Homo sapiens: one gene and its partners. The protein of the gene in region 1 purifies or fractionates together with the protein of each later gene. This does not show direct contact. Each region holds a gene or a part of one and is shown in the gene's direction. Other genes may lie near its edges.

Region 1 (10,769 bases):
TGACAGCGAGGTCAAAAGAAACTCTACAGAAGGTGAGGGTTCTATGCTCGCAGATATGTGTACCGTCACATGCTCAGATGTGTTCTTATATATGCTCACATATACACAGAAGCTAGCATATCGCAGATCTATATACAGAGGCACATGCACACACACAGACACTTAATTTTGCACTCTCATATATAGATTCAAACACCAAAAAACCCACAGGAATATAAAAGTATGCATTTAAGCATTCATTCATGTGTGTGTGTGTAATATATTCTGCAACAGAGTCCTTGAGTTATATATGCTCACAGACATGCCTAGTCACACACATTTACACATGGAACTACAGATACATACGGATGTTTTCAAAAACTGAAATCCCAGTACCTGCTTATGAATACATATCCTCATACCCATGCAGACTCCCAGACACATGCCCTCTCATGGACTCACAAACCCAAGGATGTACAAACATTCACAAACCTAGAGCTACCCACATAGTAACCAGCATCTACACTCATAATGCCCTCAGAAATGCCTATTCACAGAAGCCATGAGCATAAATCATGAACTTAAACCCCAGCACTGGGATGATTTATCCATTTGAACCCCACCAAGTTCCAGAAAATATTTCAGACAGAGGACGATGATCATGAGGGTTATATTAGGCAACACACACACAAACATACTTACCATTTCTTACCTAAACAGGGCTGTGAGCAATCTCTCATTTAAGCCCCCCGTTACTTCAGAGACTACCCCCCAAAAATCTGCAGCTAAGACTGATGCCATTTCTGCTGTATCACTGCAGGTGGTATCCCACTGCCTGGAGCTTGGAGCAGCCTCAGCACACTACATTGCTGGCACCATGGAAGACATGACCTTCGCAGAGCAATTTGTTGCCCAAGCAGGAAAGCTCATGGGTGAGGCTGTTTCTCTTACCTCCTCCTCTGAACTTTGCCCTTGGGGTCACCAAGAGCTTTTGGGAGGAGAATGGGAAAGGTATCAACCCCAGATGATTTCTTAATATAGCCATCTCTTGCAGGAGGACTAGACATGCTCATTCTCAACCACATCACCAACACTTCTTTGAATCTTTTTCATGATGATATTCACCATGTGCGCAAAAGCATGGAAGTCAACTTCCTCAGTTACGTGGTCCTGACTGTAGCTGCCTTGCCCATGCTGAAGCAGAGCAATGGAAGCATTGTTGTCGTCTCCTCTCTGGCTGGTAAGTGGGACAGGGACATATGTGGAAGGTAGAAGAAAAAAAAAAATGCCAGGGATGATGCCAGGCTCTGAAGTAGACATAAATTTTTATCAGTTTCCATGCAGAGAAGTAATGAGGGATTGGTCAAGGTAAGTGGGCTACAAAATTCTTTTAAGTAACAGAGAAAAAGCAGTAGCTCTGAGTGCTCATTGGAAGACTGAATTGTTTTCTACAAAGTAAGGTCAAAGGGACTTGAGGGGCTGCTGGAGGTACAGCCTGTCCTGGTCCTAAGGGAGAGACCTAGTTACAATATTAACTTGAAGTTGAAATGTTCATAGTAATATTAAACAAAAGCTGATTAACAGCTTACTCATATGCATGAATGGGCAGATGTACTGATAAGAGACTTGTAGGGGGGTGATTTGTGGACTCAATGAGAGGCACGCATCCTGAGTAAAGGAGACACTGTTACAAACTAGTGACACCATAAAAAATGAAGGATTGGTCAAGGTAGATGGGCTACAAAATTCTTTTAAGTAGCAGAGAAAAAGCAGTAGTTCAGAGTGCCTATTGGAAGCCTGAATTGTTTTCTACAAAGGAAGGTTGAAGGGACTTGAGAGGCTGCTGGAGGTACAGCTTGTCCTGGTCCTAAGTGAGAGACCTAGTCACAATGGATAAAAAGGACTTTGCTTCCTCCATGACCAAAAGGTTGGTGAAGTTATGTAAATGTGAAGGTACAACTGAGAAGTTAACTGTTTTAACAACACACAGGTGTCTGATAAGTGGGCTAAGCTAAAGCTAAATAAAATGAACAACAAGAAAAAAAAAAAAGATGAACAGACCTGCCTATAGTGGGTGTATTCTCTAAAATTTGAACATGTTAACATGAAAAGATCAATTTAAACAACCAGCTGGGTAGGGAGGAAATGTGTCCAGAGAAATGGTCATGAAAAGATATCTGTGGGATCAAGAGAGGTCCCTGGTGTTCTGGATGGTGGTAGCATCAGAAGCCATCACCAGTAAAAAACCAGTGAGTTCCCAGCTTGGGACATTTCTAGGCCCATTTTTATCATAGATCCAGGAGACAAGTTCCACACATCTTTGTTGATTAGTCAGTTAGAAGGATGTGGCTGGAAAGTGCAAACACCAGGATCAAAATCCGCCATCTAAATGTTGTTCCTGGCAAAATAAAAACAAATAACCTAGAGGACTCTGTAAACTGTTAAGCACTTCACAAACATTCTTATTGAAACTAATAGCACCATCTGTATCGTAAAGAGTTCTCCTTTCTGGCCCAGGGACGGCCTGCATAGTGATTGGATAAAGGGGCAGTGTGTCTGTGCTACCCGCCAAACAGTGTGATTGATATGCATCCCGGTGCTTCCCAGACAACACACACTCCCCACCCCTCCCCAGACACAGACTCTCTCTGGGCTGGAAGAAAGGGAGAGCTTCCAGATGCATACTGAGTGGGAGGGTGCTGGGCACATCCCCAATCCATCCCAGGGCATTGGACAAAATCCTCACATCAGTCATGATGTAGGTGGCTTTAATGATTTCAGCTGATTAAATAATACATTCACTCTAGGCAAAGGATGTATTTCACCTTTGACGAATGTAACTTTCTAGAATGTACCCATGATCTAAATGTGCTCAGAAGGACTAAGAATTACTGTTGAGCCCAAGGACGTGATGAAATTCTGATAATCTCTGTTTCCCCATATCTCCTACACTTATTGAATGACACTTGGTAATTTCCATGAACTCTGGGAGGTAGGAAATCTAGCTGGATGAGTATCTTTGGTGTTTATTGCTTGTGTAGCCAAAAGATTCCAGCTTTTTTGCCTTGAAACCTGTCTATGAACTTGCAAAGTACAGACACATTGCTGTCTTGCCGCAACTGAAGAATATTCTCTGCTTTATGATGTATTCTTTTAATCAGTCAGTAAACATGTTCATTAATCCTTCCTCTTTAAAATCTAAACTCTATAAATATGGGATGCTAAACATCAAGTTGATCTTAAGGTCAGCCAAACAGTACTGGGATGGAGTTTTAATCATTTCTTCTAGGGAATACCTTAAGTTGTTTATTGAGTTTCAGTGATAAAGAATTGTTTTTTCTCCACAATGCATTTCTGGGTATTGCATTACATGGGAATACTATACTTCTAATATGTTCCTTAAAGGCTTGGTTACCTCTGTAGCATTAACAGAGACAATACTGCTGCTTCTGGGAACCTCCTTGTAGTCCACATCTATCCACTATTCACCACCTTTTCTTGGCACCTATTGAGCAAGTTTCTTGTATGTGTAACATCCCGTTACATTGATTAGCCTCCTCTCCTTCCACCACTTGCTAGTTAGGATGTAAGTTCAGCTACTGTAACGAAGACCCGAATTTACAATGGCTTAAGCAAATCTAAATTTATTTATCTCACACAAAACACCCTGGAAAGGCAGTCCAGGGCTGATATGGTAGTTCTGTCCTATGAGGCTGTCCAGGAGGCCTTCTATCTCAGAACCACCATTCCTAGAGTGCTTGTTTACACCTGCATGTCCAAGATGGCTCATTGGCATGTCTGAATTCTAACTCAAGAAAATGAAAAAAGAAGGATACCACCTGGAAGGTGTACACTTTTCTTCTGCCACAGCTGGCTGCAATTGTTATCTTTATTCAAAGGGAACATGTGTCCAACTAAAAATCAGAAGTTCTATTTGTGTAAAAGACACTGATATTGATAAACAACTAGCAATCTCTCCCACATCACCCATGCTAAAAAACACATAAGACTAGAAAAAAGTATACCCTCCAGGCCATCCCACATGTGAAACACACACACACACACACACACACACACACACACACAAAAGACTCATTCCCTCTCACATTCAAGGTCCATCACAAAAAACAAAGTCCTTCCATCCGGCAGTGCGTGCAGGGGACAGTGGGGTAGGAGAAAGAATGGAAAGAGAATACCTAAATAGCATTTGTGAAACAAACCAAAGTAGAAATATTAATACTTGAATATGACTAAAAAAAATCACTGGAGTGGGCAGAGAACATTTGAAAACATCTGGAAAAAAGTTTATCTGACATTAGTCAAAATAGGTCATCTTAGGTTCAATATTAGAAAAGTAAAGTTGGTTTCATTTTCGGGCTCCTGGGCTTGGTGAATCCCATCACTGTGGTGTGTGTCATCAGTTGCACACATGGCAGCTAGAACTGAGCATCTAAGGCCATTTCTCCACCTGCTTTATGCCCCTGAGAGGAATCACGGACAAACCCTGTCTTCCTCTGCTCCTTTCTCCTCTCAAAATCTACTTAGCCCCCTACCTCCTATGAAGTCTTTTTCAGAACTCACCAGAGCCATTTCAATGTTTCTTCTTTGTCTTTATCTACTATATTTTGGTAAGTTAACTTTAGAAATCCAACTTCCTCATCATTTCTCTTTTTTGGGTTTATTGGTAATCCAAATACTACTAATACTACTCATAACTACTAATAACACAAATGTTAAACATACTCGGCAAGCATACGTGTAGGGATAGTAATCCTTCTGGATCAAGGAAAATGCAAGGTATATTTTGAAGTGAAACTGGACATCACAAAAGACTCAGTTGCTTTAAATATTCAAAATGAAAATAGATCAGAAGGAATAAAAGAACCTTGTCAATAACCTTTGAATCAGACTTCTCTTGAGAAGCTCCATAAGTGTCTCCAGTTAACTATTCACTTTTCTCCAAGTAAATCTTCTTAAAAAATCAACTTTCCCTATATATAGATAGTCTTATTCAAATGTATTCCTTTCCTGTTTTACTCATTCGCAGCATTGTTTCATACTGTTTTTTAATGTACGTGTGCAGTCTTTCAGGCACTTTGAGTTGAGTTGACTAGCCGGGGGCAAACATTCATAAGACAGTGCTCTGTGGGAAAACTCAAACCAACAGATGAAGTCACTTGCTGGATCTTAACCTATTTGTCAGTGGAGGTCTGCCTGTGTGGTCTAAATCTATTTCAAAAATTCAACATTATGAAGTGGGGGGAGAAAAACAGGTTTTTCAACTACACATATCAACTAACAGGACTTGGAAGACCTATAATGATGTTTTGCATAGACAAGGATATACAGATGTTAATGTCATCCCTGCCTTCAGTTCTGGCATACCCACTCCTTCCTGAAAGGTGGGCCAATGTTTCAATGTATAGCTGTGCCTCAGGTTATTGGGGGTGGGGGGATCCCAAACTCCAGATTATGAACGGGCCTCAGAACCAGAGTGGAAAGGGGCAATTTATCCCTTGCCACAGTTGTTCTCATTTTTCTAAGAAAAAATGCCGCTTTACCCTTAAATCCAATTACCTCAGAAATAATCTTCAGGAACCAGGATTTCTGAGGTGAGTGGAAGTGTTTATCCATGTGAACGTAAGCATTTACATGAGGGATGGGGAGTGGCGATGGCTGCACAGGGTTGAGCTGTGTGTTGGGGGGATGGGTAGAAGTACGCAGAGGTGAGGTATGTGTTTGTGTAGACGTGTCATCCATAGGGCCTATAAGAATGCCAAGAAGGAGATCAGAGTAAAATCAGCAACCTGGGCATAAAAATTCCAGAAAATTTATTCTATAAAATATAATCATTGTTGTCTAAATTTAAGAGATCGTGTTTGGGCAACACTGTGAGGATTGAGACAGAATCTGCTAGATTTATCTAGGAATTCAGTTCTGCATCAGCCCCAAAAAGAAAGGAGTGGGGGAGATTTGAAAGGGAGGAAGACTCTTTGATGAAGACAGTGACAATTTAGTGCAGGTTGAGAATAATATAATGCTACCCGTAATCATTGTTGCTTCATGTTCTTTTCTGGAAAGGCTCGGCTGAACTTAGGTAGTTGAGGTTACTTATCCCTGCTAGACCACAGGTTTCATTCAAGTGCACTTGTGGATGGAAATAGCAAGGTTCTACCATCATTTGTATCTTTACGTTTCCTTACCAAGGAGTTTGAGAAGGCTTACAACAAATACATTCTATTTGGAAAAACACAAATAGAAAACTAGGTCTTAAGAAAAGGAGAATATAAATGTGCCCAAATTAGACTCAGTATAGATCCTGTGCTTAAGCTTCAATATTGGCACTTGAATTTCTTAACAATAAGAAAAAGAAAAGAAAAAGGACAAGATCAGTGTACAGCCAGCACTCTGCATGCCTGGGTTCTACATCTGTGGATTCAACCAAATGTGGATCAAAAAAAAATGGGGGGAAATAAATTAACAGAGTTCTAATAAGCAAAACTTGAATTTGCTACATGCTGGGTACTATGTTGAATTCACAGAAATGATATAAGGCATAGGCACCAAATTAGGTATTATAAGTAATCTAAAGATGATTTAAAGTACACAGGAGGATGTGCATAGGTAATATGCAAATACTACATCATTTTATATATGAGGGACTTGAGTATCTATGGATTTGGGTATCCACAGAAGATCCTGGAACCAATCCCCCTTTGAATACTGAGAGATGACTGTACTCAGAGTAGGAAAAATGCATGATTCTTATATTCATTTAATTGTTTATTTTTGTGTATTTTTTAAAGTCTAGGTCTTTATTTGTCATTTTGTCTAAGGTAATTTGGAAATATGTACCAGAAGCCTTAAGAATGTTTCCTTTGGCCAGGCGCAGTGGTTTACGCCTGTAATCCCAGCACTTTGGGAGGCCAAGGCAGACGGATCACGAGGTCAGGCATTTGAGACCAGCCTGGCCAAGATGGCAAAAGCCCGTCTCTACCAAAAATACAAAAATTAGCCGGGCGAGGTGGTGGGTGCCTGTAGTCCCAGCTACTTGGGAGGCTGAGGCAGGAGAATCGCTTGAACCTGGGAGGTGGAGGTTGCAGTGAGCCGAGATCGCACCACTGCACTCCAGACTGGGGCAATATAGTGAAACTCCATCTCAAAAAAAAAGAATGTTTCCTTTATTTCACCCAGTCTAAGTGCAAGAATATATCAAGGAAATAGCTATTAAATTAGTCACAGATTTAGGTACAAAAACATTTGTTGTAGGATTTTTTAAATTGCAAAACATTGGAAGTAACCTAAATGTCTGGCAGTAGGAAAATAACTAGTTGTACTATATATTTATATTTATATCTGTATCTGTATCCATAGCTGTATCTATATCTCTGGAAGGACATTTTCCAAAATATTAGCATGATTATATCTAAATTACAGAACAATGAATGATTTTTGTTTTTAGCTTCATATTTTTCTTCATTTTCCAAATTTTCATTGTGTGTGTATGCATGCATGTGTAACTTTTATAATCATAGAAACATTTCAATAAGTTGTTGGGTGTGTTGTTTTTTCCATTGCTTTGTGCCTCTTTTCATAACCTTTTATGAGAAATTCATTTCAGAAATTATTTGCTTCTTGCTGTGCTTCCTTCTTTTAAATATAATCATATACACACACCCTCAATTTCTTCAATGGATTGGTTCCAGGACCTCCCACAGATACCAAAATCCATGGATGCTCAAGTCCCTTGTATGAAATGGCATAGTATCTGCATATAACTTAGGCACATCCTCCTGGATACTTTAAATCCTCTCTAGATGACTTATAATACCTAATACAATGTAAATGCTATGTAAATAGCTGTTATATTGTATTATTTAAGGAATAATGACAAGATTTTAAAAGTGTGTATGTGTTCAATACAGACACAAAATTATTTCCTGAATATTTTTAACCCATGGTTGCTTAAATCCAAAGACGCAAAATCCATGGATACAGAGGGCTGCCTATATTGATTTCCATAAGTAGAAATTTGCTTAAGTACTTCAAGAGGAATGGTCAGGGAGAGAGAGCATAACTTCATGTCTGAGAAGTTTATTCTATAAACAAACTTGAACAAGTGCTTCCCAAATATACTCATTCATTCATTCATTCAAAAAATATGCATGAAGGTCAACTCTGAGTCAGGCACTATGCCAGATGCCAAGGCTATGGCAGGGAGCAAGAAGGCCAAGGCAAGATACCTGTTGTGCACCCACATTCTAGTGTAAGCCAAGTTGTTACTGTATTGTTTATAGTTGTAAAAACAAACAAACAAACAAAAACTAGAAACAACCTAAGTAGCAACAAACATAAAACAAACACTCTAAGGGATAAAAATCATGTTACAGATCTATTGGAAGGGTTTTTATTTCTTGGTATACAAAATAGTAGTATGTTTTACAACTGCTTGCCTCTGAAAGCTGTTGAAATACAGCATTTTACTCACAGTGATTAGGCTGTGCTCTCCTTAAAGGCAGGCACATTGTTCATTCATCTCTGATTCCCTGGAGCTAACAAATTTTGCAAATAATCAACACATTCTTCTTGAATGAACAAATGATAAAATAGCTTGCTAGTACCTGGATTTCTGGCTTCATGTCTTTCCTTAAACTGTGTTGGAGACTCACAGTCATATTTTCCCTCCATATTTCCTTTCTGTTTCTAGGCCTTCGTGTCAGGGCTTCTTAATAAGGATACTATTGGCCTTTGGTGAGGGACAATTCTTCATTGTGTGGGACTGTCTGATGCATTGTCGAGCATTTTTTAGCATCCTTGGCTCTGAATAATTCAATCTAAAAGCCACTCATAGAGGCCAAGCAAGATAGGCATCTTCACCGGGGAGGAAGGTGGCAGCACAGATTGAAAAACTTGAGCAGGATGGGACAGGTTTGTGTCACAGAGCAGGTTTGGGACATCAGAGACTGAGTGAGATGAGGATGGCATCCTCACATGGGGCAGCAGTGGTGGCCTAGTGTGAAGTTTCAGAGCCTAAGTGGGCCAAGGAGGCTCTTCATGTGGCACCTGGCACAGGGCATCAGAACTAAGGGGAGTGATGAGAGCATCTGCAAGAGGGCCTGCCATGGGCAGCCCGACATAGGGTAAAGAAGGCATTCACCAGGCATTCATGTAGCCTGGCACTGGGGTGTCAGAACCTAGGTGGGATGAAGAGGCCAAATGAAGAATGATCACATACAGGAGCATTAATCACATAAGTAATACATATTGCAGATCTTGGAAGCCCCAGGTTCTCACTATCAATGTTACAAATATGAAAAGGAAGAAAATGAGAATGAATCCTCTAGTGTTGGATTGCAATTGGAAGTGTGGGTATGAATTAATAGTTGTTTAATACACAAGGACAGATATATAAATATAGATGTGTGTCTACATATACATGCATGTATTCACTCACTCTGTCCACTGACAGGACCTGGGAGCACACTTGGTGCCCAGATCTTGTTTTCTAAATATCATTCTCCACTAAAAAAAAAAACAACAACAACAAACCACCAAGGCTTCTTAGAGAAATGACTGATTCCAGGGCAGTGGCAAGAAAGGTACAAGATAAGCCTGAAAATCTTGTTCTGCCAGTAAGTACAGAACTGCTCAAAGGATAATAGGCACACATTACCAGGACACAGAGGCCAACTTTAAAGGGATCCCACTAGCCAAACCTAGAACCATTGAGGCATCAAAACAAATAGTAGTAACAGATTATCACCCATTGCAACAATAGGAAATAAGTCCATGAAGTCATAAATAAATGCATGAATAAATAAATCAAGAGAGGGGAAGGATTTTTCATGAAGTGGAAAGCCAACTGATATGAAATGATGAACTTAGAAAATCACCATTTGGTAACCATAATTGTAATAATTCAGCCAGGAAGCAACAAAGGATGCTAAAAGTAGTGGGTAAAAGTTAAACAAGGAAGACGGTATTTACATAGTCTCAAAGTACTACCCTGTGCAACAACAACCAAAAACACCACAAATGACCTGATTCAAAAATGGGCAAAGGATATATGACAGACCCACAGCTAACATCATACTGAATGGGGAAAAACTGGAAACCTTTCCTCTAATAATTGGAACTAAACAAGGATGCCCACTTTCACCACTCTTATTCAACACAGTACGAGAAGTCCTAGCCAGGGCAATCAGGCAAGAGAAAGAAATAAAAGACATCCAAACTAGAAAACAGGAAGTCAAATTTTCACTCATTCACATGACATGATTTTATAATCAGAAAAGCCTAAACGCTCCACAAAAAAACTCTTATAACTGATAAACAAGTTCAGTAAAGTTGCAGTATACAAAATCAACATACAAAAATCAACAGTGTCCCCATATGCTAACAGCGATCAATCTGAAAAAAAGAAAAACCATTTACAATAGCTACAGAAAAAAAAAAACCACCTAGGAATAAATTTAACCGAGGAGGTGAAAGACCTCTACAGGAAAAACTATAAAACACCCATTAAAGAAATGGAAAAGGACACAAACAAATGGAAATATATCCCATGCTCATGGATTAGAATAATTAATGTTGTTAACATGACCATAATACCAAGAGCAATCTATAGATTCAGTGCAATTCCTATCAAAATACCAATGACATTTTTCATAGAAATAGAAAAAAAAAACCTAAAATTTGTAGGGACGAAATAGCCAAAGCAATCCTAAGCAAAAAGAACAAAACTGCAAGTAATACATTACCTGACTTGAAAATATATTAAAGGCTATAGT
Region 2 (11,507 bases), on another chromosome or scaffold:
TTCATCAATATTTAGTTCCCATGTTAGACCATCTTTTCTTTCTTTTAGGCGAGGTCTTATGATTAGTTCTGGCCAATGGCCTATGAGCTGGATTGCTAGGTGTTACTTGTGGATAAGAAAGAAAAAGCTTCTTGCCGCCTTTTATATTTCTGTGATCATGGAAAAAGTTTCATGTTGCGACAGCAGAGATACAAGATTTAAGCAATGTGTATTGTGTAGACCCTCCCCAAGTTATAGTTTCCCTACAGAACCTCTTCGTCCCAAAGTCAATTTTGCACAAAAGAGAACTTAGCTTTTTGAGTTAAGCCTCTGAGATTTTAGGGGTTGTTTTTTTACTGCTGCCTAAGTCTATCTTATCCTGACTAATATACCACCTTTAACCTATCTAAATACCCGTAAGCGTATGGTTTTGTTTTTTGAGTCTTCATTCTGAACCATTCATTTATTTGCTTCTTCTCATGTCAATACCTCCCTCTTCAATTGTAACTTTATAGCAGATTTTAATATCTAAGAGGGCCAAGACCTACATCATTATTCGTTTTCAAAATCCTGTTGGCTGGTTTTAAGCATTATTTTTAAGGTAGATCTTTAGAATTCTATAGAAGAGAACTTGGTGAGATTTGCAATGGTATTGCATTAGATTTATAGATTTATAGATTAATTTATGATAATTGTCATATAAGGTCCTGCAGTTTTTTCTATGTCTTTTATATTTCTATTAGTTTTTTGAAACATAAGGGTTTTTTTTTGCTATTGAATGAGATCTTTGTCTACATTACATTTTAAAATTAATTCTAAGCAGTGTACAGGAAAATAATTGACTTGTATGTTTCTCTTGCATGTAACTGCTCTTTTCCTCAGCTCATTTATTAGTTCTGAAAATAATTAGATGATTTTCTTGCACCATGACATTGTCCTGGGGTTGCTTCTTAGAGGCTTATCAAGTCTTCTGGATTTGTCTCTAGGCACAAGCCTGGGTGCAATTCAGTGTATTTTCATCATTCATGGTTTCTTCTACCATCTGTTCTAGGAAATATTACTGTGTCCTATTTAAATTCTCCATTCTACCTCTTGTTCCTGTAAGGCATTTAGCAAATCTGTTTGTGTAATTAAATTTTTGTACTATTATTACTTTATGGACTAATTTTACAGCATTGCTTAACTTATTTAATATTTCCATACTGGTTTTACCATCTTCGTTAGGAAAACCATTGTATAACTATACCCTATTATTACAGAGTTTGTAATCTGAATACCATCTCCTTATCTTTCATTGATTATCCTCTTAATATCAAGTCCTGACCTACTTTTATCAAAGGCATTGTCTATAGCTATGTATTAAAATTTTCTACCATTAGAATATAAGTTTTATCCCTCTTGGTAAATCGTTTTCCTACTCCATTATTCAAGGGTAAAATAGGTGTGTTTACATAATTCTCAACATACACTTTTGAATCTTTTTTTCAATAAGCTTAACAAAAATTCTGTAACATTTAATGAACACTTAAATACCAAGGCATCAATCCATCTACCCGCCCACAGGCTTGAAAATCATTTTCTCCAATACCTTTGCATAAGATGCATCTTACAGGACCTACTCACAGAAGGTAAAAACGGAGAGGCAGTTCTTACTCTGCTCTCTGAAAATATCACCTCCCCTCCAAAATAAAGAACTCTCAGCTGTTCATAAATAAGTATTCAAAGGAAGGCAGTGAGTTAGTCAAAATAGGCTAGACTATGCTTCAGTGACAATTCCAAATTTTCAGAGTGGCTTTTTGATAGTATGGCTGCAATTTATTTTGCTGCTTCTTATTAAAGGATAGTCTAATTCCTCTCCCCTTCAGTCTGGTGTGTCTTCAGTGCCTTGACTAATAGAATGAGGTAGAAACGACACTCTTAGACTTCTAGAGCAATGCAGTTTCCACCTTCTGGGAACTCTTGCTCTAGAGAAATTAAGTATGACAGCCCTCAAACTGCCATGCTGAAGGAAGCCGAAGCCAGCCACATGGAGAGACTGCGTGGATAAGAGCAATGCCTGTGCAGTCCCCAGCTGTTCCAGCCAGCCTACACTAAGTGCCAGATGTGGGTGCAAGGGACTTCAACTAATTCTGGCCTCGGCCTCCAGGGGTCTGCCACCATATAAAAGAGTACAAGCAAATATAGCCCAGCTGAGCTCTTGAACCCCCAAAACCATGAGAGGTGAGTTTTGGGATGGTTGATTAGGCAGAAATAGTTAACCTGAATAATCTCTCATAGTGAAAACGTATTTCTTACCTTTGTAAAGTCCTTTTAAGAATCCTGGGAACCACCCAATGCTGCTATTCTCCACCAGGCAGCTCAGCAATTCAGGCTGCTCTGGTCTTGTAGACTCTTAGATCATGATCTTTTCTCTAAAATTTCCACAGCAGGAGAACAGAACACTGGGACATTTTGTGCCGGTGATTAAATACTTCAGCCTGGAAATGATACATACCCACCCCTTCCATTTGTAGCCCATTGGCCAATTCATATAAATATGACTAACTTCTGAGGGGTGTAGGAGCATCCTCCTCTGTGGGGCAGGGAAAGAGAGGGGGACTAGATAGGATCTACCACACTCTTCTTCCCCTCTCTCCTGCTAATGATGTTACCTCATCAGAGGCCTAGGAATTCCTTTGCCTACTAGGAACCACATATTTTTGTGTAATCATAGCTGCCCTGCAGTGCCACCATCACTCTGGGGGAAAAAGCCTTTTCTCCTAGTACCAGGTACCAATCTTCTTAAACCTGTAAATCCACGTTTTAAACATAAACATGGATCACACACTGACCTAGCATAGCATTACAGCATAACAAATTGCCCCAAATCTTAGTGGCTTGATATTATGTAACAACATTGATTACCTCACAGTTTCCGTGGGTGGAGGTCCCAGCTAAGCTAAGCTTTGCCCCCTGGTTCTGGGTCATTTATAAGGCTCACCCGTCTCAAGAGCACTGGTGACAGATTTGCTTCTAGGTCACTCATGTGGTTGTTTGAAGATCCAGTTCTTTGAGGGCTGTTGGGCTGAGGTCTCAGTTGCTTAGGCTGCAGACCTCCCTTGTCACATGGAGCTCTCCACACAGAGTCGCAGAGTGAGTGTGCAAGAGGAAAAGAAGTTTCCAGCAAAATGGAAGTCTCAGGTTTTTGTAACCTTAACAAAGAAGTGATAATCCATCAGTTTTCCCATCTTCTGTTAGAAGTGGGTCACCAGGCCCAACCCACACTCAAGAGGAAAGGATCACACAAGGGCCTGAATACCAGGAGGGAGAGATCTTGGGAGGAGTGCCAGAAGCTGTCTATCCCAAGTACATCTATGGGATGGGTATTCTGCAATACAGGGGACACAAAGATATATAAGGTAAAGCCCTTGACCTTGAAGAGTTTTTAGTAGTGGTTGGAGGAGTGAGGGTAGAGGGTGATAGCTACATATAAATGCATTATACTATGAAAGGTATGTGGTGAAGTTATTGTATTAGTCCATTTTCACGCTGCTGATAAAGACATACCCGAGACGGGGTAATTTATACAGGAAAAAGTGTTTATTCAACTCACAGTTCCTCATGGCTGGGGAAGCCTCACAATCATGGTGGAAGGCACGGAGGAGTAAGTCATGTCTTACGCGGATGGCAGCAGGCCAAAAGAGAGACAGCTTGTGCAGGGAAATTACCATTTTTAAAACCATCAGATCTCATGAGACTTATTCACTATCACGAGAACAACATGGGAAAGACCCGCCCCCATGATTCAATTATCTCCCATGGGGTCCCTCCCACAACACGTGGGAATTAGGGGAGCTACAAAATGTGATTTGGATGGGGACACAGAGCCAAACCATATCAGTTATACAGAAGAGCAATTGGATCTGAGAAGAGACAGCAGCTCATTCTGCATGAGCTATCAGAGGTACAGTGTGGACTACATGACAGAGACTGAATGATTCACTGGACAACTGGAGAAGAGTGTTCTAATCAGAATGAAGGAGCAAGGAGACACTGAAGTACACAATGTGCTTTGGGAATGGGGAGTAGCTTTGTGTTACTAGGACACAGGGAACTCTGGGAATAGTGGAATGTAAAGTGGGCAAAACTGAAGCTGGGCTGTGAGAGGCATTGTGTATCATGCTAAGTGAAGTTAACTTTAGTATAAGAAAAATAGACATTACAGCGTATTGTTGCCTCCAAATAATAATATTAGTGTTGGCAATATTGTGGCAAAAACCACAATTATGTTTGCACCAACCTAATATGTAAGCTTTTTGAGTTAGAATATGTGCTAGGCATTATTCTTATCTCATATAATCTTCACAGCCACCTTTTGGAGCAGGTTCTATTACTACCCGCATTTTAAGAGAACTTTGGTGTGGACTAGTTTTAGCCCCAAATCACATGGCTAGGAAGTGTCAGGGCTAAGATGCCAATCATGGTCTGACAGCAACAGGTCCCTTACCCTGGTCTGTGACTCCTTACGGCAAGGTCAGTCCCATACTTCCTTGCTACTTTCTTCCTACCATCCTTAGTCTGAAGGCTAAGACTTCAGTTTTTGTTAAAGATAGGAAATGCTTTGGTAATGGCTGTCTTTCATGCTGAAGATGCTCTCTCTCCTTTTAGCTTTTCATTTTGTAAATTTTCCAACATATGCATGAGTAGGTAAAGTAGCAAAATGAACTTAGCTTCAACACTGACTGATGTTGCACCACTTTTCTTTCACCTATCTTCTTTCCATTCCCTACATTTTATTTCTGGAGCATTGTAAAACAAATTCTACACATCATTCTATCATGAAAGTGATAAAATGACAGAATTCCTGTTTATGAGTCACTTCTTTTTACAAGCACAGTAAAATGTTTTCCATTGAGTTTATGGAATTGATATGTATGTACTTAATAACAGTGAGTCTTAGTAGCATTCATTGCAAAGACATTTTCTTAAATTTCAATAGTTTGTAAACCCTTGAGTGTTTTATTTTAATGATAAGGGCTAGGTCCACATAGTTTTTAGCTAATACTAATTAATGCATAATGCAGGCCAGATCTTCTCTTCAGGCAAAATTAACTTCCCTCTCCTATAAGTATTGATTGAAATTTGCTCTCATGTGCCCTGAAGTACTTTTAGTCTTATTGCTGTCTTTGTTTTAAGCCGAGGGCAGAAACCACATCCTTTTCATGGTCTATTAACCACATTACCGAGGTTCATGGTTTGCACAACTAGTAAACACATACAAAGCACCCTTTGAGAAAGCTTCCTCATCCTTTAATTGTAATCCAGTCTTATATATTAACGGTGTGGTGGTCCCAAGGTACAGATTCATCTAATGTGACCTGGAAAGAAATTTGGAAATCACTTAAGGCTACCCTCATTTTAGATCTGACAAAACTGTAGTCAAGAGAAATGTGAGGTCCATTTTACTGCAGGTGGCAATAGTCTTAATTGACTCATTTTATCGGCTAGTACCCATGTTTTTAAGAGTTTCTATGAAATTAACATTTTTTGTAAAAAAAATGCAATTGCATAGGCTAGTTTCATCAATATCCTAAATTAGTGATGCTTCAATATACACATGCAGAGTACTTAAATTTTCCTCTCTCTTCAGCAGGAGATACTCACCACGTCCCTCCATTTTTCATTAAACATACGTGTACCTTGCAGCCCGTTGCTTTTATATTTGCTATCATTGAAGAGGGGATGGATTTTAAAATTACTGGCCATGTTTCCCTTTAGAGAAGCCCACACGCGCCAACCCTGCCCTTATTGGAGCCTGGGCAGCAGCGGTGCATGTTCTAACTTAGGCAACGTTGGGTCATCTGTTTATTGTCAGCTTGGCGGTCAGGAAGAAAGGGCGGTGGTTGCTGAGGTAACCGACACCCCGGGCAACGGCAAGTGGAGGCGGGAGGGGGCGTGGCCTCGACGGGCAAGCGGCGATAAGAGGTGGCGTCCTCCGCGGCATTGCGAGCACCGCCAGTCTGCGCCGCTAGGCGTAGGCGGGGTGGCCCTTGCGTCTCCCGCTTCCTTGAAAAACCCGGCGGGCGAGCGAGGCTGCGGGCCGGCCGCTGCCCTTCCCCACACTCCCCGCCGAGAAGCCTCGCTCGGCGCCCAACATGGCGGGTGGGCGCTGCGGCCCGCAGCTAACGGCGCTCCTGGCCGCCTGGATCGCGGCTGTGGCGGCGACGGCAGGCCCCGAGGAGGCCGCGCTGCCGCCGGAGCAGAGCCGGGTCCAGCCCATGACCGCCTCCAACTGGACGCTGGTGATGGAGGGCGAGTGGATGCTGAAATTGTGAGTGTGCCCGCCCGCCCCGGACGCCGCAGTGTCCTCGCGGGCGTCACCCTCCCAAGCCCGCGCGGCCCGGTGGCGATCCCGCATTGCCGCTTGGGCTCAACCTAAAACCCCGGACCAGGCTTGCCAACAACCTGCGGCGCCGGTGCCGGGCCGCTTGCGATCCTGCACTGCCGCTGGGCTCGACCTGGGGTCCGCGGACCCGCCTTACCAACGACCTGCGGCTGTGGGGCCCGGCCGCTCGCGCCGCGCATGCGCGCCGAGCCCTCGCGGTGACAGCCGAGGGTGCAGCGCGTCCCCTTGCTTTGGGGGACAGTGTTTTCGGGGTGGAGTGGGCAGCTTCCCATAGGGAGGAGAAGGGAAGGAAGAAAATCTGCAAGCAAACCGTGTGCTTTTAGATACAGATATGTATTGGAAGAGAAAGGACATTCAGTGACATCCACGTGCAGTATGAATACGTAGCACAGGCTAAGCAAGTTACCTGTTGAAGAAATTGCAGCACGGTGAAGGCAGGCCATTTGTGTCGTAGTCTTCCGTTTGAAGACCTGGAGATGTCATTGTGAGAATAAAACATAAATATGGATGCCTTTTAAATTTTACAGTATGATTTCAAATAAATGTTGATACTTATTATAACTTGTAAAGGTAGGACTTTCTGAGTAATATTAATAATTGTGCCATAAAGAAAAGAAGATACGCATTGCCCCTTTTAACAATAGAAAGCAAATGGTGGATAGTGCCTTTTCTTTAAGGAGATGGGAAACTACAGTTTTGAGTTAGGAGAAAGAAAGGGATTTGTTGATTATAGTTTAACCTTATAATAGGAAGTGACCATTTGAAAGAGGCTTGCAGTGGATGGTGGGCAGATGTCTGAGCGGGCTTGAGAGACCATCATGGTGGGCTTGCAGACTCTCTCTCTCTCTCTCTCTCTCTCTCTCTCTCTCTCTCTCTCTCTCCCCCTCCCTCCCTCCCTCCCTCCCTCCCTCCCCCTCTCTCTCTCTCTCCTCTCTCTCTTCTCTCTCTCTCTCTCTCCCTCCCTCCCTCCCTCTCTCTCTCTCTCCTCTCTCTCCTCTCTCTCTCTCTCTCTCCCTCCTCTCTCTCTCTCTCTCTCTCTGTCTCTCTCTCCCCTCCCACAACTCCTTTCCACCCTACCTGCCCCCCTCCCGCCCCCACCCCCCAAACATAAAATCTTTCAGGAAATTGCCACATCTCTTTAGCCTGTGGTTTCTGGCAATCTGTATACTACTATTGAATCTTTGTTTTACGTTGAGGACACAGACAGAAAATTGGATCTTTCCTTTATCCAAGACCAAGTTTTGATTCTTTCAATTTAAATTGCAAGCAGGTGCCTATGGAGTGAAAACCTCAGTGTGAGATCAGAGCCAAAATTTATGTCACACAGCAGATTACATTGCTCGAAGAACATAAGGCATATCACCCCTTCAAATGTGCATTTACCTCTTAGTCACAAAGAAGGGGATATTTTAGACCTCCAAATGAAATACCCTTGGTATCATAATAAATCAATGAAATTATTAAAGGGAACTGTAGACATGAATTATTAAAATATTCCACTTAACTATTTTTGGAAGAAGGTGAGGGGGTCATATTCTATTTGAGAAACTTTTAAAATAAGTGGAGCTGTGTTAAGACTTCCATGTTTGTAATAATTTTAAGAGTTTGGGATAAACTGCATTTTGTCAGCCAATACTACAGAAAGTTCTCTTTTCAGTAGGTGCTTACAAAATGGACTTTTTCCTAGATGTCATCTTTCAGGGTAAAACTGAGTTTGCATATGTATGTAAGAAAAGTTAAAACAGAAAGGCCTCCTCATTTTTAATGACTTCAACTCCTCTATGGTTCCTTTTGGAATTGCTTTTTTTTTGGTAATAGAATTAAGAACACTAAAGCCTCAATAAGTTTTTGAGGGAGAGCCAACAACATCTGTGCTTGGCCATGTTGATGGTTCAAATTTTACTTTTTTATGAATGTATAAACCTAAACATAGTAATCAATTGCTCTGAGTTTGTCATGTGTCCAGTTGTATGGAATATGCTTGGCCTGTGATGCCAGATGAGTCTTGTAATCTGGAAGTAAGCTGTGTAGACACAAGGTCATTTTAGTAGACATTCTCTTTTTATCGAGTGCACTTCAGAATAGGTGGCTAGGAAGCAAGGCTGTCAATGAAAATTGATCCAAACCATTCCATCCAACTTCTTTATACGCACTAAAACCCAAGTGCTCATCCTGAAGAAATATTTTGGTTCTTATCTATTTGTGATCTATTTTTTTCTGTATTATCAGGTGATACTCCTCCTCCTTGCTGTGAAAAAAACTCCAGTACTTAAAAAAATATAAAATTCATTATATCCTCCATACCACTAGAGGCCTGCTATGAATTTCTAAGAATTCATTTAAATAGCCTATACGTTACCAGATTTTTTTTTTTATGTATATAACAGAGAAAAACAAAATGCATTAAAATTAGCTTCATCTTGACACTTAGTTCAGATGAGCTGGTCATACATAAATGGAAATTGTTAGTAGTTCAAAGATGTTGTAGTTAACTTCTTTAAAGAAACAGATTGAGAAGCTTTTGTTGTAGTTAACTTCTTTAAAGACACAGATTGAGAAGCTTTCCGATATCAAAATGTATTCATTACTTTGAATGAGAGTTCTTTATTTGTTCATTTGCTTATATGCGCTCTTTCATCTGGGAATTTTTTCTTTTATACGCCACGTCATACAGATCCCCTCTAATGCAGTTTCTGGTTATATTGGTATAGATAATTTATTCTTAAGAATCTAGCAGTATTTGGCAGCCCTGAGACATGAAAAGCTTCTATTATGAAATTAAATTTGGTTATTTTTTCTTAGTCTTTCAAACAGTCAATTTTTTGGATTCTTGCAATTGAATTTCCAGTGTTTTAAAAATGTATGAGTTAAAAGTATATTTGCAGTAATTCACCGTTTCTATTCTGATGATTTTAGAAATCTGAAAAGTTCTCCCATTGCTACATACATTTTCTTTAATGCTATGGGCTTATTGTTGTTATTATTATTTTTTAGATGGAGTCTCACTTTGTCGCCCAGGCTGGAGCGCAGTGGTGCGATTTCAGCTCAGTGTACCCTCTGCCTCCCGGGCTCAAGCAATTCTCCTGCCTCAGCCTCCCAAGTAGCTGGGAATACAGGCACCCGGCTATGGGCTTATTGTATACTCGTTTGCCCTTTTTCTGAATTAGGAAAAATGATCTAATCTTTAAACTACTGTATGATGCATGCTTTTCTCTATTGCCATTGTTTTATACTATTCTTCATTCAGTTCCTTTGCAACCTTTTGCTACTTTCAACATTTGCTTGGCTCTCATTATGTCAGTCCTGGAGAAAATGACTTTTGTTCTTTTGAAACATGGAAGTATGTAATATGATACATTCTGGTGGCTTTTTCCCCCAGAAGAAATAGATAGCCAAGTGGCTTAATTTTGACATTCAAGCTGATACTCAGAAGAAAAGTATGTCTTTGGGTTAGTTTACCTCTGTAAAGCATATAAATCTTTATAAATTATTGCCTTTTCTTATTTTTGTTTTTGGAATGATCATGTTTCAAAATTTAAATTAAACACCTGGTGATGGAGCAAAGCTTTGTTTATTTCCATAGGACATCTAGGTTTTAGTATTATCTTTCCAGCCTTCCTTTATACCTGGAGAGAATGTGTTGAACATCATTACCTTAACTTGCCCATGTCAAGTTAGAATTTCTTGCAGTTTAATAGATTGTCTTGATGTCTTGATGGAATGTTTGAGAGACAACTCACTAAATGCTTGTGTGTCAGGTTCAGTGTTGGGGAGCTGGGAAGGTGAAGAAGAATGAGCCTTCCAAGAGATTGTGCTCTGAAGGAAATATGTAGTATAAGTTATGTTCATTTATTTAGTAAATGTTTAATGAATGCTTCCTCTGTGTTGGACATTCATCAGTGCTTCCCAACAGGACACTATTGGCATTTTGGGTGGACAGTTCTTTGGTGTGTGGGAATGGCCCACGTGTTGCAGAACCTTTGGCATACTTGCCCATTATATTCTAGTAGTAGTCTCAGTCATGCGACATCAAAAAATTGTAACTCCCATTCCCTGTGCATACTTCCAAATGCTTCTAATTGAAAACCACTGCTCTAGATACTGTTATGGGTATTTAAAAACATGCGAATGTTTGATTTTAGATGGTTTCCACAAAGGGTTTAAAGCCTCATTAAAACTTGTCATCCTTACCACTTCCATCCACCTCCTCCACTTCCTCATCATCACAATCACAGTTCATAGTTACATGGCTTACATCACATGTTCCAACTAACTGTTTTATTTGATCATTCCAGCAATCTAGTGCGGTATTATTCCCATTCTTACTGACTAGTGGAGATAAAAAAAAAAAAAAGAAAAAAAGAAGCTGGCTAATGCCAGATCCTTAGTAAGTGGGGAGCAAGGCCATAACTATAATGCAGGCCTGAGCTTTGCAGTTTCTGATCTGCAGTTCCCAGTTCTCCTGGGGAGCCTGGAGGAAGGCACAGGGCCTGGTTGACTCTTGCTTTGGCCCTCAGCTAGCCAGCACCCTGACTCACATGAGGGTAGGCCTTGTTCGTGCTGGATTCTAAGGCCCATCCAAGCTTTTACCATCTCTCTAGTTTCTGCAAGTAAAGAACATTTTTACTGTATACTCATTCCTGACACTGTTCACCACTTAAACAGGTGCCCTGCCTTCCCATCATCGCAATGCCCCAGGAAAATTCTTTCTCACTATGCTTTGGTTGTGTCTTGCATGGTCCTATCACAACCAGTAATTACACATTTATTGATATGCTTTTGTACTAGGTCTTTCTTTGACTACCTCTATTATAAGCTTTTAAGTAAAGGAACAAGGTTATTTTTTTCCTTCCCTGTTTATCTCCAAAGCTTTAATAACTAACAAGTAGTTTGTGTTCAAAAAATACTTTGTGACTAGGTAAATGAGTGAATAATAGATTAATTGCTCTTTTATCAGGCACTTCTTCAAGCATATCACTGAAGGAGACATCTTTATATATTTTCTGAAGTCTTAAGGATAATTACTATCATCTCCCATTTGTTCACTGATGGAATATTTATTGTGGTGGCCTAGGACCTTCCAGGTTCTGTTCTGTGGTGCAAGTCATGCAGCAGTCACTGCTTTCGTGGAGTGTTAATTCTA
Region 3 (10,769 bases), on another chromosome or scaffold:
AATCTCACTCTGTCGCCCAGGCTGGAGTGCAGTGGCACAGTCTTGGCTCATTGCAAGCTCCGCCTCCCAGGTTCTCCTGCCTCAGCCTCTCGAGTAGCTGGGACTACAGGTGCCCGCCACCATGCCCAGCTAATTTTTTTTTTTTTGTATTTTTAGCAGAGACGGGGTTTCACCATGTTAGCCAGGATAGTCTCCATCTCCTGACCTCATGATGCACCTGCCTTGGCCTCCCAAAGTGCTGGGATTACAGGCGTGAGCCACCATGCCTGGCCGTGATGATACTTCTTATTGTGCAGTACTCCTTAGCTACAAATCACGTTATGCTACAAAGTGGTGCCAAATGCAGAAGCATGGCTGACACAGGCATGGCAATAACTCTTCCTGAGCTAGAGACCTGCAGGGTCTATGAGATATAACTGTGGCAGCTCACTCTACACATTATGAACACAGAATGGGTCAGGCTTCTGCTTTCATGACTGCATTATGGCATAGGAGTCATCAATGCACAGCAAGTGTGTCATTCTTACAGTGGAATTAATGTGTTCCTCAACGTGCCGTGGCTCTATTTATTTTCCTATGGGAAACTGAAGCTGGGTGTCTTTGGCAAAGATTTATTCAAAAGGATGGCATCATTAAAAACAAGCTTGTGCCTATAGAACAAAATGAAGTAAGGATGGTATTTCTTAAAATGAACTGCTTTGATTTTCAACACAAATCAATCATACTGGCAAAAATTTGTAAATGATACATTAACAAATTTTTGCCAGTATGATTGATTTTTCATATGTTTAATCCACATCTTTTGTTTGTGTCTGCATACAAATTTTTTTCTGAACATGCATCAGTTGTCATTTCCAATTTTTGACCTTTTTCTGAGATTTTAAGCCTTTAGCAACTGATTTTTTAAGTTGTTTTTGTTACTTACAGATCTTACCAAATAAACCACATGTCCTCATTTCAGTTAGCATTATCAGATGAAATGTTGTAAACAAAAGCAGTTATTTAGAAGAAAATATCATATCCTTTACTTTCTAATTGTTTAAGAAAATTACTTAAAAGGTTTTTTTTTAACTGGGCTGTTAATAACACCAATTATAAACTACATTGGTCTTCGTAAAACTTACTGCCATGTTTTGATTTACAGGATCTCCAAAGATGGGTAAATGGTGCTAATGAACATGGCTTTGTCTTGGTGTCTTTTGGAGCTGGTGTCAAGTATCTGTCAGAAGACATTGCTAACAAACTGGCAGGAGCTCTGGGGAGATTGCCTCAAAAAGTGATTTGGAGGTAAGGTAATAATGTAGATTGTTTCTTTGCTATTGACAATCAATATCTCCTTGTTTAGTGCACAGGTCCCAGTAAAGCACAGCACATTGTTTCCCTGACAAGATTAGCAAGATGCCCTTGACTTTCATTTTGTTTCTTAGCTTGTTGAAATCTAGGAATTAATTCATAAGGCTCTATGATGGTTAAAGAAACCTCTGACCTATATAGCACAGAAAGAAGATATGATTCAGAATGACTTTTCCTTGTGTCAGATGCATACTTACATTTCCCTCAGAGTTCTACCCTCGTTTACTCTTTTATTATTTATTATGATTTTAAAAATTAGTTTTAATTGCATGCCTTTTTATATACTCCTTCAAATCAGTTTTGAAATGAGGAAGAAAATGATGGATTAACGAATACCTAAAATACCGTGGACTCTTTTGGGCTCCCACTTTGTCTCCTTTACATTATGTTTTTGATTTATTTTATTTAAGAAACCTGGCCTTTAAAAACACAATCACGTACCATTTAACACGGTTTAAGACAGAACCATAGATTGACCCCAGCTTCTTTTGGAAGGCATTGCCAGCACATGACTGTCTTTGGAATTTCCAGCCCAATGCTGAAAAATCAGACGTGAACACTTTATTTAGCGTGTATTTATTGAGCACGTACTACCACTGTTGAACTCTAGGGATACAACGTCGGTCCCATAGTTACTACCATGAGTGGAAGAAAGTGCCCCTTAAGCCATTGCAAGTAGGCTTTGAGTAATAGAGATTTTCCCTTTATAGCAAATGAGTAAGGATTAGCTCCCACTTCTCCTGGCTGAACTATGCAGTGATATTTATTTTATTCTAACTGTTCAGGACTTTTCCCTTCAGATTCGAGTCCCATTGGGTTTCCTCTGTTAGGCTTAACCCCAGAAAGTACCTCTTCTGCTTCATTTAGGACAGTTTATGTCTATTCCATTCAGACTCTTTTGTCACCCTCTTAGTTGTTAAGCATATTTCTGTTTTATCTTTTAAAGATCAGGCAGGAAACAACCTAATTATGTGCTTCACCCCACAAAACTTTTATTTCTGGTGAAGCTAAAGAAGAGAACTTACTGATTTTTTTCAATACTTCTGCCTTCCCTCAGACTCAGGGTGTTAAGGATTTAGGGATATTGACTGCCATAGCAGTGGCAGCTCTCCCTGCTCCTTCTTGTTCCAGCTTCTGGCTGTTTGTGGGGAATAACTTCTAGTGTAGGTTTATTTGTTTGTTGTTTGTTTGTTTGTTTGTTTTTCCCATCTCTGTATGTGTATAGGCGTGAGGAACCAATGGAAAATAGATCTCTATGTAAGCAAATTATTTCTTGTTTTTCCTCCAACCAGTGAAAGTTTTTATTAAAAAGAAACTTAATCAAATATTTGCTGTTACCAAAGCATGGTTTCATTCTTAAGAATATCAACAAAAGATCATCAAACATTTATTTTAAATCTCATAATTTAATCAGAGAGCCCATACTATGAGTAAGGTTTGATTTTTAAAAGACTAATTGTCTGGTGTACATTTTAGGTTTTCTGGACCCAAACCAAAGAATCTAGGAAACAACACTAAACTCATAGAATGGTTACCACAAAATGACCTGCTTGGTAAGTCAATGATGTGTGGTTACTTACTTGGCTGTTAGGTTTTAATTACATAAATGTGACTTTTTTTTTTTTTTTACTTCAGAGGTTCATACGGTATACGGTATGTATGTAGTATATGGTAGAGTTATTATGTTTTTTATCCAGTATCTCAAATCTTAAATTTGAGGCCAAAATTTTAAGTCTTTATTTATTGGAAAACAGTTTGTAAAATGTAAACCTTTGGGCCTCTATATTAAAATTTTTAGACCAGCCATCAATTTTAATTATCTGGAAATTATGTACTTAATGAACTATATAAATTAGTAGTGAATAAGATTATACCTAATTAGAGTAATCAGATGAAAGTAGAACAGTTAAAACAATAAGAATGTAGATTTAGGTTACAGGTTTGTTACAGATGGTCTGAGAACCAAGAGAAATTAGAAGTTATTCATTTGTCTGAAACCAAAGAGAAGCAGAAGACCATGGGAACAGTCAATTTATTTTAACTTTAACTGGATTATCTGCTCTGTTTAGTCCTAAATCATTGGGCATTTTTGAAGCATTTTATATTATTTAATCTTGGGGATTTTGATTCTCAAAATTAAAATAGTAATTAGTATATGCGTATCTTTTAAGTGTGTTTTTTAACTAAATTAGTTTTTTAACTAAATTTAACTAAAAACCAGTAAAGAATTTTATTTATGTATATAATTTATTTTCATCTAGCTTATTATAATACTATTCTATAAATGCTAAAACTAAAGAAAAAAGAATACAAGGCAATTTACCTTTCTTGATCCTTGTATTTTTTTATTTTTAAATCTTTTATGGCTTTACTGTTATGACTTAGATTCCTTAGAAGATAGGAAAGAAGCAGGAAGTTTAAGTGAGATAACCTGACTATCAACTATTTCAGTGCGACAGTGTGACACTGTTATGTATGAACATCTAAACTTTTATTGTGTGTGGGTTTTCCATTTCTTATTGTTTTTCTTTTTTTCTTTTTTTTGACTGTGAGGCTCTACTGCAAGGTCCATGCCTGAAAACTCTCCTCAAGTCCATAGCTGCTCTAGGCTTCTCAGTGTGAGAACTCTGACTTTTTCAAGATTAGTATCTTTTTTAACAATAGGCACTATCCTTGTGAGTCCTCTAATAGCTTCTAACTATGATCAAAAGATTCTTCCGGGATGAGAAGTAGGAACCAAATCAATGTCTTTCCCCTCCCCTCGTAGCCGCCCCTCCTCTTTACACAGCAGCTCTGCTTTATTTAACTGTTGGGTTTGGTGGTAGGTTTTGTTCAAAGAGAGGGGTTTTTGCTAAAAATAAAGTTTGAAATCCACTTCTAGGGCAGATCCTTTAGTTGGACCTAAGAGTCAGAAAAGCCACTTGTGGGTAAGGGCTAGAGACACTGACTAACCAATTCCACCAGTCTTCAGAATGGAAGAGCTCTGGGAGCACCATTGAGACCATGGTTCCCATACATATTAATTTTGTACCTGGCACATGTGTATTTTAAAAGATCGACATTTCAGCTAGCTATAATTTCTTTCTGGCCAATAACATATATCCTAAGTACAATGTTTTTGTTTTGTTTTGTTTTTACAACTCTTATGCCAACTTTTGATCCCTTTTATAGAAATGTAGGCCATTTACCAGGAGAGTAAATCTAGGTTTTGAACTTCCATATTAATTTTGACAAATTATCTTTTTTATTCCCATAACAACTAAATGTTATGTGATGTCTCATGTCTTACAAATGATTATAAATGTTTACCTCTACATGTTTGAGCACATAAATGTAAAATTAAACCTTAAAATTGTGAAATATTAATGCTGATAGAACTTGAATGTTGTGAATAGTGATTACAACATTTCTTTTTGGAGAAGCACACAAACTCTTCATGGACTTCTGGAATCCAGCCCTTTTTTACATTTTTTTTAAAAAGTGTTTTTGACTTTAATATTGATAAACATTTGAGTAGCCAGAAAGTAGATGTCTGTTTTTTCACTCTGGTATTGTTTGGCATTTCTTGCTTTCATTGGCTTCATAATAATTATTGGCCATTTAAATATGTGTTGTTAGTCATGCAATATTTGTGTTAAAAATAGTAATATACATTTCAACTACTTAAAAATGGCTTTTAATTGATATATCAAAATCTGACAATTAGGTATATAACAAATATTTTAATTGGTGTAGAGCAGGAATCAGTGAAATTACACCTTTAGGAATCCTTTATCTGAAATGCATGTTTACTGTAGTGCCGATTTTTAATGAATTTCTGGGAAAATCTCTTCTGTAGAGTAATAATGTTGTAAGTTGTTTTCTTTTTCATCTTTCTTCAGGGCATTCAAAGATTAAAGCCTTCCTGAGCCATGGTGGTTTGAACAGTATTTTTGAAACTATATATCATGGTGTGCCTGTAGTGGGAATTCCACTCTTTGGAGACCATTATGATACTATGACCAGAGTACAGGCAAAAGGCATGGGGATATTGCTAGAATGGAAGACAGTTACTGAAAAAGAGCTCTATGAAGCACTAGTGAAGGTTATCAATAATCCCAGGTAAGGTTTCAATTAACATTAAAGCTGATGAACTTACATACCACAGTATATTGTCAGTAGCCAATTATTTTCAATAGATTGTCAATAAATTATCAAATTATGGAAATATCCTTTAGATTCCTGTGATAATGCTTTGTGCATGTTTTCTATTATTTAGAAAATGAAAACAGCAGTCATTTGACCAGCCATGTTATGACACCAGATAATATTCTGCAAGGATCTTCCAAACAGGGAGAAACTGCAATGGGAACAATCTTTGGATATCTACATTGTGTCAAATGTTATGTGCTTTATTTCATTTTCATACTTATAACAGCTGTATATCACAGTTTTTATTATCCACATTATAGAGGCAAGGCACTTGATATTCATGGAACTTGAGTAATTTGGCTTACACAGCAATTGTAGTTGAAATTAGAAGCCAGGACTGTCTGATTCCCAAGACAGTGTTCTTTGTACTGCATGGTAAGCCTGGTGTTGCTGGGTTTCCCTAGCACTGAGTATTGCAGAAATACGGAGATTTATTTACTCAGGTGAATGATGAAGCAGAATCTTTATTTTGCTTTTTAAATTATTGATGGGTCCTGAGTTAAGCTAGTTCACCAATGAGTCTCAAAGGGTGAAGAACTGGCCTGTGTAGTTTTAAAACAAAGCAGCAGTTTTCTTCATTTGTAGATATTATATTTAATTTACCTTGCATTTCCAATAGCATTAAATATTAGAAGCGTATAAGCTTTTTCTTTTTATGCCTAGGGGATATGGCTTAACACTGAGAAACACTTGAGAAACACTGCCACATTCTAAGGAACAACCAATAATAAGAAAAATTATTTCATATAAAAGGATGCAGCTTGCATATAAAATGCTGAATTCAACTGAAGTTCATTATGCTGCCTTTATGTGAGCTCAGGGGTGACCTTCATGCTCTGGACTCTTAAAGGATCCAGTGTCGGATACAGCTCTGCCATTGGAGCAATGTGTTCCATAACTAGGGTTGCCTAAGTATATCCCTTCTTCTGTTATCTATAGTTTTTCTTTAAAGGTGTGCTTTTCAAAACATGATGTTATTTCATATACATATATATATATATATATATATATATGCACACATACATATACATCATGCATGTATCATATATGTGTGTGTATGTATGTATCTATCTTCAATCTTTCAGGAAAGTTTGTAAAATATAGCCCTAAGTAGAATTATGGGGAAACAGTTGCAGAACTGCTGAAATTGGCTCAGATGAAAAGGAAAGAGCAAAAATCTAGGTTATTCACAGGAAGTTAGTCCAGCTGTGTTTTGCGAGGCATGAACCAGGCTGAATCAGAGCAAGAACAGGTTGCAATCTTAGGTCACATGGCAATTAAATTCCAGCTATAGAATATTGAAGACATGTAAGTGCTTAATTTAAGGATTATTCAATGCAGTGAATAAATTTATATCATTCCCAAAAGTATGCACATCAGATAATGAGTTAACTGCATGTAACTTGAAAACCTTAAATATTTAACTGAAAGGATTTTGTGCATAGAAAGATGTCTTAGTCAATGTAAAAATGCCAGTGATTTGTGTAGCATGTCCTTTGCTAAAAGTCATTATATAAACTGAAGTCACTTATCTTTGTTTCCAATGTGATAATATTCCACATTTAACAGGTGATAATTATTGAAAATATTAGTTTGCCTCACTAATATTGTGTCCGAGATATTCTAGTTTAAACCAAGTAACTAATACTGTAAAAGAAGTATTCCTTTTATGAAGCCAGCATTATCCTGATACTAGAACTGGGAAGAGACACACACAAAAAAGAAAACTTCAGGCCAATATCGCTGATGAACATCAATGTGAAAATCTTCAATAAAATACTGGCAAACCGAATCCAGCAGCATGAGGCGGGTGGATCACAAGGTCAGGAGATCGAGACCATCCTGGCTAACATGGTGAAACCCCATCTCTACTAAAAATACAAAAAATTAGCCGGGCATGGTGATGGGCACCTGTAGTCCCAGCTACTGGGGAGGCTGAGGCAGGAGAATGGCGTGAACCTGGGAGGCGGAACTTACAGTGAGCCGAGATTGCACCACTGCACTCCAGCCTGGGTGACAGAGCAAGACTCTGTCTCAAAAAAAAAAAAAAAAAAAAAAAAAGCTTATCCACTATGATCAAGTTGGTTTCATCCCTGGGATGCAAGGCTGGTTCAACATATGTAAATCTATAAGGTAATCTATCACATAAACAGAACCAAAGACAAAAAAACACATGATTATCTCAATAGATGCAGAAAAGCCTTTGATAAAATTCAGTATCCCTTCATGTAAAAAACTCTTAATAAACTAGGTATTGATGGAACATATCTCAAAACAATAAGAGGTATTTATGACAAACCTACAGCCAGTATCATACTGAATGGGCAAAGGCTGGAAGCATTCCCTTTGGAAACCAGCACAAGACAAGGATGCCCTCTCTCACCACTCCTATTCAACATAGTATTGCAAGTTCTGGCCAGGGCAGTCAGGCAAGAGAAAGAAATAAAGGGTATTCAAATAGGAAGAGAGGAAGTCAAATTGTCTCTGTTTGCAGATGACATGGTTTTATATTTAGAAAACCGCATTGTCTCAGCCCCAAAATTGAACTGAAAGGAACTTCAGCAAAGTCTCAGGATACAAAATCACTGTGCAAAAATCGCAAGCATTCTTTTACACCAACAATAGGCAAGCAGAGAGCCAAATCGTGAATGAAGTCCCATTCAGCAATCACTACAAATAGAATAAAATACCTAGGAATACAGCTATCGGGATGTGAAGGACCTCTTCAAGGAGAACTACAAACCACTGCTCAAGGAAATGAGAGGACACAAACAAATTGAAAACATTCCATCCTCATGGATAGGAAAAATGAATATTGTGAAAATGGCTATACTGCCCAAAGTAATTTATAGATTGAATGCTATTCCCATCAAACTACCATTTACATTATTCACAGAATTAGAGAATACTATTTTAAATTTCATATGGAATCAAAGAAGACCCCCTATAGCCAAGACAATCCTAAGCAAAAACAACCAACCAAAAACAAAAAAACAAAGCTGGAGGCATTACGCTACCTGACTTCAAACTATACTACAAGATTGCAGTAACTAAAATAGCATGGTACTGGTACCAAAACAGACATATAGACCAATGGAGCAGAACAGAGACCTCAGAAATTACACCACACATCTACAACCATCTGATCTTCTACAAACCTGCCAAAAACAAGCAATGGGGAAAGGATCTCCTATTCAGTAAATGGTGCTGAGAAAACTGGCTAGCCATATGCAGAAAACTGAAACTGGACCCCTTCCTTACACTTTATACAAAAATTAACTCAAGATGGATTAAAGACTTAAATGTAAAACTCCAAACCATAAAAACCCTAGAAGAAAACCTAAGCAATACCATTCAGGACATAGGCATGGGCAAAGACTTCATGACTAAAACACCAAAAGCAGTTGCAACAAAAGCCAAAATTGACAAATGGGATTTCATTAAACTAAAGTTTCTGCACAGCAAAAGAAACTATCATCAGAGTGAAAGGCAACCTACAGAATGGGAGAAAATTTTTGCAATCTACCCATCTGACAAAGGTCTAATATCCAGAATTTACAGGGAACTTAAACATATTTACAAGAAGTAAACAACCCCATCAAAAAATGGGCAAAGGATATGAACAGACACTTCTCAAAAGAAGACACTTATGTGGCCAACAAACATATGTAAAAAAGGTTAACATCACTGATCATCAGAGAAATGCAAATCAAAACCACAGTGAGATATCATCTCATGCCAGTCAGAATGGTGATTATTAAAAAGTCAGGAAACAATAGGTGCTGGTGAGGCTGTGGAGAAATAGGAACGCTTTATGCTGTTGGTGGGAATGTAAATTAGTTTAGCCATTGTGGAAGACAGTATGGCTATTCCTCAAGGATCTAGAACCAGAAGTACCATTTGACCCAGCAATCCCAGTACTGGGTATATACTCAAAGGAATATAAATCGTTCTGCTATAAAGACACAAGCACACGTATGTTTATTGCAATACAATTATAATAGCAAACACATAGAACCAACCCAAATGCCCATCAGTGATAGACTGGATAAATAAAATGTGGTATATATACCATGGAATAGTATATAGCATTAAAAAGGAAAGAGGTAACGTGCTTTCCAGGGACATGGATGAAGCTGGAAGCCATCATCCTCAGCACATAACACAGGAACAGAAAACCAAATACTGCGTGTTCTCACTCATAAGTGGGACTTGAACAATGAGAACGTATGGACACAGAGAGGGGGAAGAACACACACCAGGGCCTGTTGGGGGTAGAGGGTGAGGGGAGGGAACTTAGCGGATGGGTCAATAGGTACAGCAAACCACCATGGCACATGTATACCTATGTAACAAACCTGCACATTCTGCACATGTATTCCATTTTCTTTTAGAAGAAATAACAAGAACAACAAAACCCCCCAAAAGTATTCCTTTTATTAATCCACAACTTAAGTAAAATTACACATCTTACGTCTCTGTTTCCTAATGCTTTGGATTCATTTAATAAAGGCCTATTGCTTTTTTGTTTGTTTGGGAGGATTCCTTTGAGTCTGGAGCTTTTATTATTACAAAATAAGTTAGAAAGAAAGATGGAGAATCGATCATTATTAACTTCGCACATATCCAACCTGTGGTCAACTTTTAATAGAAGATATTTATACTTTTGTAAAATTTAATGTACATGTGAGCCCCTTACAAGGTAATTGTTTTATTAAAAGGGGCTTTATCTAAGAGATCTCTTGGAATAACTTAGAGGTGTCTGGAGTGACCATTTTTAATCACACTATTTTTTTGCAATATTCATATTCTTACTGGAAGGAATTTTGAGTTGTAAAATAAACTATGCTCATGGGACAATGCCACTACATTAAATTTGAGACCAGTTTCAGCATGGAAAATACCTGCCCCTCAAAAATTTATCTGTGAGTTCTCCAATATTCCTTTCCAGTTGATCCATGGACCTCCTCTGAACAGAATAGTCATACAAAATGAAATCGGTTAGTTAGCAATCCAGCTTTATAAGTCTACTCCTAGGTGGGACTAAGAGTCTGACCGATGAAAGTCCCTGTTCAGATAAGCTGAGTCAGATGTCAAGAGCTTTTCTGATAATTAGTGATCTAGGACCAAGTAAACATATTGGAGTTCCATATGAGTTAATAATTTATTCAAGAGTACAAGAAGTGAGATTTTCCATTAAAGCATCTGTTTAATCTGTTTAATCA

Evidence for each region.
Region 2: the proteins of HSD11B1 (region 1) and TMX4 purify together in Homo sapiens (affinity purification with mass spectrometry; 3 studies listed by BioGRID and IntAct, with this or other methods). This does not show direct contact.
Region 3: the proteins of HSD11B1 (region 1) and UGT8 purify together in Homo sapiens (affinity purification with mass spectrometry; 3 studies listed by BioGRID and IntAct, with this or other methods). This does not show direct contact.

What each region holds. Positions count from the first base shown.
Region 1 is NC_000001.11:209,705,910-209,716,678, forward strand, and holds part of HSD11B1 (11-beta-hydroxysteroid dehydrogenase 1), read left to right. Parts: coding exon 1-32; intron 33-799; coding exon 800-911; intron 912-1,033; coding exon 1,034-1,219; intron 1,220-10,769. UniProt on the Homo sapiens protein: Controls the reversible conversion of biologically active glucocorticoids such as cortisone to cortisol, and 11-dehydrocorticosterone to corticosterone in the presence of NADP(H).
Region 2 is NC_000020.11:8,014,220-8,025,726, reverse strand, and holds the start of TMX4 (thioredoxin-related transmembrane protein 4 precursor), read left to right. Parts: upstream 1-5,965; 5' UTR 5,966-6,113; coding exon 6,114-6,289; intron 6,290-11,507.
Region 3 is NC_000004.12:114,662,851-114,673,619, forward strand, and holds part of UGT8 (2-hydroxyacylsphingosine 1-beta-galactosyltransferase precursor), read left to right. Parts: intron 1-1,144; coding exon 1,145-1,287; intron 1,288-2,829; coding exon 2,830-2,906; intron 2,907-5,234; coding exon 5,235-5,454; intron 5,455-10,769. UniProt on the Homo sapiens protein: Catalyzes the transfer of galactose to ceramide, a key enzymatic step in the biosynthesis of galactocerebrosides, which are abundant sphingolipids of the myelin membrane of the central nervous system and peripheral nervous system.